Homo sapiens: one gene and its partner. The gene in region 1 interacts genetically with each later gene. Each region holds a gene or a part of one and is shown on either strand. Other genes may lie near its edges.

Region 1 (3,500 bases):
TTACCACTCAAATTTTGGTAAACATTTTATAATTTATATATAAAATCTCAGTAAGAAACCATGTAAAATGACAGAAATATCCACCTTACATTAAGAGTCAAAATAAAAAAAAAAACCCATACACACTGAATGTAAATTTTAATTATAAAACAAGAATATGAACAAAACATTTTAAAATAATCTCAATTATTTGGCAACTCATCACATCATTGCAAGAGACAAATTTGATCGTAAGAAGTTTAATCTTATGAAAAACTGAAGTTGGACAGTTTGCTCATATGAGAGTTAAAACATGTTTAAAAAAACACTTGGCAATAAAGCCAGTTTCTATACTGAAATAACTGTGTATAAAACAACATAAAATCCTGAAACTGGATAGACAGGAGGGACCTAATCTTGAATGCATTTCTCTTCACTGAAAAAGACAATATGGAAAGAGTATTGGTAGAAGCTTCAGAACAGCACAGAAGAGGAATGAACACAGAGAAGAGGAATGAAGAGGGATTTCTGCTGCAGGTGACTGACGCAACTTTACCTGAACCAGAACCTGTTTTGTGTCAACGTGGCTGGTAGTAAAGTCACAGATGCAAGTATAATCTAAAAACAAGTTACATTCTTAAAAAACAGAGCCACAACTGTGAACAGAAAAGCAATGAAGAACCTTTCTTTAGCTAAACTACTTTACTTGGATACATGCGAGTTTCTGCCAGATCATATTAAGATAGTTACAGAGCAGGCAGAGTCCTAAAAAATTTTCTACTAATGACTGCATAGCATTTAAAACCCTTTTTATTTAAAAAAAAAATAAAGTAAAATAAACAGATATATAGTAAAGTTCACAGATAAGTTTTCTCTGTAAAATAAATAAAGTGTTCATTGATTAGCATCATACATAGAGTAAAATACAACCTATTTTTACATGTTTATATACTATACACAGATTACCAGTAGGCAGCCTGGCGTCTGATGGGCTGGAGGGGTTTGCATTCATGATGTGTCACATTGGGAAATCCCAATTTTGAATGTTAAAATATACAACTACTTTGTTTTGAGTTCAGATACAAAGTAAACTTATTGTCCTTTATCTGAAATAAATGTACATAATATCTTCTATGAACAATAGTTTATAAAGCTGTTTAAAACATAACAAGAAAAAGCTTGCACCTAGGGACTTACAGCACATGCATATCTTTTTCCTGGTTAAAGAGAAGCCTATGGCCACCAAGGCATGTCTCTTTCCTCTCCACCGTGTTCCTCCATAAGCCTAGGGCAGCAGTGGTCAGGATTATCGCTTCGCTTTTTTCACAGGGGCTTCCTCCACCCTTTGCTGGCCTCTTGTTCGGGCCCCAGGAGGGCTGACTTCTCTCTTGCGCTTGATAGAAGGGGAGAGCTGTGTCTTTGATCTGCATTAAGCAAAGTCAAGGCAATGGTGAGGTTTAAAAGCAGCTGCTTCAAATAACTTGGGAGTTCCTTAAAAAACAGAAGAGTTTTGAACTTGACAGCTAAGAAGAGAAAAACCCAGTAACATTTATACATGAAAAGGAGCTACCTCGCGAAGAGCTTGAACTAACTGGTTATTTGCTGTCAACCTCACACACAAACACAGGACACTGGAAGAGAAGTTTGAAGCCTGTGCTCTGGTTCCAGCTCTACCACACTCTAGGTGCTGATGGTGCTCAAATCCACTTCCTTCTCTGGGCCCTAGTTCTTTCATCTAGAAAACAAAGACATCAACAGCGGGTCCCACCAATATACAGACTGTCCCAAGTTCAAACAACTAGCAAGAACACAGCAGGACTGCAATCTAGGTTGGACCAAGTGCAAAATCATGTTTCGTAGCACAGTATTACAGAAAATACCTGTGTTAGAAAAGGCACGGGAATTTCAGAAGAACATTCTAACCAATCTCCCTATCACCAGCATACCCTGTTGATATAGTCTGTGATTAAAATTATTTGTTGGAAACTCCAATTAATCATGTTACTGTCCTAGAGATGTATGAAGTTCCTCTTGGGTCTCTGATGCTTTCAGGAGAAAATCATCCAGAGCCTTTTATAGTTCTGCCTTCTACTTGTGCACCATCTGGGCCTGTAGTCCTGCACCTTCCACATCACAAAGCAAGATGCCCCATCTTTGGAATCCCCCACAGAGAAATGTGACTTTATTGATATGAAGACTTTAGGTCTTTACCACAGCATTTACCATTGTGATTCATCTGCTGTGTTTTTTCAAACTGCAAGTTACAATCAATATTTTAAAACAACATGTTAATAGGACACAACAGAAAATACCACTCATATCACATCTATTAAATTTGACTCATGAAATTTTGTTTCAGTTACAGCAGCAGGAATGTGAGCACCAGCTGTATTGCAAAATATTCTTATAGTGGGTTGTTGCCAAAAAAGTTTGAAAGTCTTATACACATATATCTCCCCCATTAGACACGATGATTCTCTAGGGCAGCTGCTGAGATTTATTCATTTTTCTAACTCCAGTGCCTAGTGCAATGCCCAACACATGGCAAGCGGGCAGTAAATGTCCTGTCAATGAATCAAAGAGTTGGAAAACCAAAATTGCAGGAGATGGAGAAATGGGACTCTTAGTGATATGAAGACACGTCTTCCGTTTCTTGTTTGACAGCAAAAGTAAATAAACTGAGTCAAAAATTGTTGCAGATGATGTGGTTTTGACATGTGTTGACAATGACTGAAAATGTGTTTGTTGATAATCCATTTCAAACTGTTTCCATGGAAAGCCACCAGCCACTCAATGAACACCTCTTCAGTAAAGGTGCCGTGCGCAGTATTGTGCTGGGGGCCAAGTGGCAGCCAACAGAAGCTCTGAGTCAGGCTGCTTCTCCCCAGCCATGTGAGCTTCGTAGTTTATCCAGGCCCTTCTAGTCCACCCAGAATGTGGTCTGTGAGGAGGGGCATTGGTCACTGAGGAGCTTGTTGGAAATGCCAACTCTCAGGCCCCAGCCTAGACTTACAGACCCAGGATCTGCATTTTACCAACAGCCTCAAGTGATTTGACTGCATGTTCAATTTTGAGTAGTATGCATGGAAACCTTCCTGAGATTCTTTCCCTCACATATAAAATAAGAGTAACTATTACAATTCACTCACTGAGGGTTAAATGAGAGCATGTATGTGAAACTGCCTGGCACTATAGTTTGCTTTCGTTTCTAGAATGTGCGGAAAACAGCACATACATACAAGTATGCTGTGAAGATGAAAATGTGGTAAGAGGTCAAAACAGTTTTTGTGTACAGTGAAGAGTCTTTTATTTTTGAATATGATAATGTATAGAAAGTATGACAAATTCCTATCTCAAGAAAGAAACCTAGAGCTCAGAGGGGTAAATAAAAGGAATATACCAAACCAATGCTATGTGGCATCTCAAGTGCCCAGTACTGACCAGAAGTGCAGCAAGAAGAGATGAAAATGGGCTGAAGCGGGACGGAAAGGATCTGACTTACTAGGGGTGCTGGTGGTGAG
Region 2 (3,500 bases), on another chromosome or scaffold:
AATGTCTGAACTCAGAAGAAACATCCGGCTGGAGGATAGGATGAGGGGGTGGCAGAGTTCCTAGAAAAGACACTTCCCTAGAAAACATCAGGGACAGAGTGGCTTGTGCCAGCACCTGCTCCAGCCCAAGCCACCCTGACATGGTACCTGGGCACCTTCATCCACCCTTCCAGGTGCAAGCTGCTGCTGGGCTCCTTGGTCTGGAGACCTGGGGAGTTCATTTTGTCACGGCAGAAGGCCTCGGTGAAGTGTGTGGCATATTCAGCAGGCAAGCCGCAGGTGGCTGGCAAGCACGTGGAGCACTTGGGGTGACACATCACCTGACATTCTAGGGAAGAACAGTGAGCAACCTGAGGGCATGCTCAGCTGACCCTGGACCCTTCCCTTCCTCTGCCAGCCAACGCCTGGGCTTCTCTACCCCAGCCGGGCCCAGAGAGTCTGGCCCTGGCTTGCAGGTAGTCTCCTGAGCTTCCCCTGGTGCCAGGCCCCTGCAGAAAGGGAAAACAAAAGTGCCAAGTGCTCTTGACCCAGTTTTCCAGGCTTCAATCCAGACCGCCCACAAACAGGTGTGTAAAGAACACGTTTGCATGTTTCAGTTGGAGTCAGCGGAAAGGTAGGGAGAGACCAGCCTGACAAAAAGGGGCTGGAAATTAGCAAAGCCTAAGGCACTCTGAGCAGCAGGCTGGAGTCATGAGCTGCAGACATATATAAACTCACAGCTTCAACAGGGGAAAAATAGCATCCTCCTACTGAAGTAAGAAGCTCGAAAATGAATGCACTATATGATGAGTTAGAAAAAAATCACCTCCACCTGATAGACTTTTTAAGCTGGAGATGCACAGGTGCCCAGCACAGATGCACAACTACTGATCTTACCGAGACATTTGGATGCCTGGCGTCCAAAGTGCACGGTATCCAGACACACAGCACACTTTGTGGCTCGCATGTTCAGTCCTACGTTGAATCGGTGAGGAATATTGTGGTGCATGCGTTCCTTAAGACGCCGACTAAATTCTGGAGGAAAATGTTTTAAAAAATCATTAGAGTACTGCAAATGATCCCATCAGGAAAGTGAAAAGACAACCCACAGAAAGGGAAAAAATACTTGCAAATCAAATCTCTGATAAGGGACTCATATCTAGAATACATAAAGAACTCTTACAACTCAATAATAAAAGGACAACCCAATTTTAAAATGGGCCAAGAATTTAAATAGACACCTCCCCGAAGAGGATAAATGGCCAACGAGCAAATGAAAAGATGCTCAACATTATCAGTCGTTAGAGAGATGTGAATCAAAACCCCAAGCAGACACCACTTCACAACCACTAGGATGTCTACAGTCTAAAAAAAGGAAGATAAGTGTTGATGAGGATGTGGAGAAACTGGAACCCTCACACATTCCTGGTGAGAATGTAAAAATGGTGCAGCCACTTTGGAACTCAGTCTGGTAGTTCTGTAAAAGGTTAAACATAGTTACCCCAGAACCCAGCAATTCCGCTCCTGGCTATATATCCAAGGGGACTGAAAACATATGTACCCACAAAAATCTGTACATAAATGTTCACAGCAGCATAATTTATGACAACTACAAAGTGAAAACAACACAAATGTCCACCAATGGTGATATGGTTTGGCTGTGTCCCCACCCAAATCTCATCTTGAATTGCAGCTGCCATAATTCCCATGTGTTGGGAGGGACTTGGTGGGAGATAACTGAATCATGCGGGTGGTTTCCCCCATACTGTTCTTGTGGTAGTGAATAAGATCTGATAGTTTTATAAGGGGAAACCCCTCTCGCTTGGTTCTTATTCTCTTTTGTCACCGCCACATGAGACATGCCTTTTGCCTTCCACCATGATTGTGAGGCCTCCCCAGCCACATGGAACTGTGAGTCTATTACACCTCTTTTTCTTTATAAATTACCCAGTCTTGGGCATGTCTTTATCAGCAGTGTGAAAATGGACTAATGAAAATGGATTAATGGATAATCAGATGTGCCATCTACACAATGGAGTATTATTCAGCCATGAAAGGAATGAAGTTCTGATACATGCTACAACATGGGTGAACCTTGAAAACATTACATTCCATGAAAGAAGCCAGACACAAAGGCCGCATGCAGTATGATTCATCTTTATGAAATGTCTAAGAGAGCAGATCGACAGAGACAGAAAGTAGATTGGTGGTTGCTAAGAAGAACATTAGTGGAAGGAGAATGGCGGGGGACTGATAATGTGTATGGAGTATTTTTTGGGTGGGGGGGTGTCAAAATTGTTCAAAAATTAGAATGTGATGAGGGTTACACAACCCTGTAAACTTACTGAAAAAGACTGAATTGTACATTTTTAATGAGCGAACTGTACGGTATGCAAATTACATCTGAATGAAACTGTTAAAACCATTAGAACAGGTTAGTTACAGATTTTGAAAGTATTAACACTAACAGATGCATCTAGATTTATAAGACTCAACTTAAAATCTCCATTATCCAGTGATTAGGAATCAGGCTTTAAGAACATGTTACTGGTAGGAGATTGACTGACTATACGGTAGGCTCTCCTTACAACATCACCCCCCTTCCTTTCTTGGAAAGGTGCAAGGAATAAATAACAGGAATGCACTTTGAAACTGTGTGGTGCAGTATACACAAAGGAGCAATATACTGTAGTACTATCACTATTCAGGGACATTTCAGTGGACACCACAGCCAGAAGCAATGCTTTCCTCTATCTTGTCATCACCATTTTAATGAGTTTAAAAGTAAAGCTCTTGGGCTGGGCACAGTGGCTCAAACCTGTAATGCCAGCACTCTGGGAGGCCAAGGCAAGTGGATCGCTTGAGGTCAGGAGTTCAAGACCAGCCTGGCCAACATGGTGAAACCCTATCTCTACTAAAAATAAAAATATTAGCCAGGCATGGTGGCGCATGCCTATAATCCCAGCTACTCAGGAAGCTGAGGCATGAGAATCGCTTGAGCCTGGGAGGCAGAGGTTGCAGTGAGCCAAGATCACACCACTGCTCTCCAAGCCTGGGCGACAGAGCGAGACTCTGTCTCAAAAAAAAAAAAAAAAAAAAAAAAAAAAAAAAAAAAGTAAAGCTCTTTGATTCAAGGAGTTATATAAACACAGGAGGAAGAAAATGACTTCAGGCTAAAGAAAAACAACAGCAACAAGAAAACACCATCTGGTTTACAACCAAAACAGGTTTGATTGCAATGCCATGATTGCTAAACCACAGCTCTACCCTAGTGTTCCTAAGACATTCCAAACAGCTTCCTTGGCCTTTTCTTAAGTCCTTTTAATCTCTAGGTAAATGGAGTACATTTGAGACCAGCAAGAAAACTCCTCACACTGTTGGTAGAAATAAACATTGGCACAAACTACCAGCACTCAAAATGTACATGACCTTTAACCCAGTGATTCATTTCCCAGGAATTTCTCCAGGCACAACACCCACAGAGGCACAGGATGTCCTCTGCAAGGTGTTTACAGTAACAG

Evidence for each region.
Region 2: changes in BOD1L1 (region 1) and CIT together harm fitness less than expected from each alone (positive genetic interaction), as found in Homo sapiens cells (one large-scale study listed by BioGRID).

The regions. Positions count from the first base shown.
Region 1 is NC_000004.12:13,568,726-13,572,225, forward strand, and holds the end of BOD1L1 (biorientation of chromosomes in cell division protein 1-like 1), read right to left. Parts: intron 1,715-3,500; coding exon of another isoform or gene 1,711-1,714; exon of another isoform or gene 1,410-1,710; intron 1,404-1,409; coding exon 1,286-1,403; 3' UTR 13-1,285; downstream 1-12. UniProt on the Homo sapiens protein: Component of the fork protection machinery required to protect stalled/damaged replication forks from uncontrolled DNA2-dependent resection.
Region 2 is NC_000012.12:119,713,321-119,716,820, forward strand, and holds part of CIT (citron Rho-interacting kinase), read right to left. Parts: intron 1,015-3,500; coding exon 877-1,014; intron 405-876; exon of another isoform or gene 329-404; coding exon 148-328; intron 1-147. UniProt on the Homo sapiens protein: Plays a role in cytokinesis. Required for KIF14 localization to the central spindle and midbody. Putative RHO/RAC effector that binds to the GTP-bound forms of RHO and RAC1. It probably binds p21 with a tighter specificity in vivo.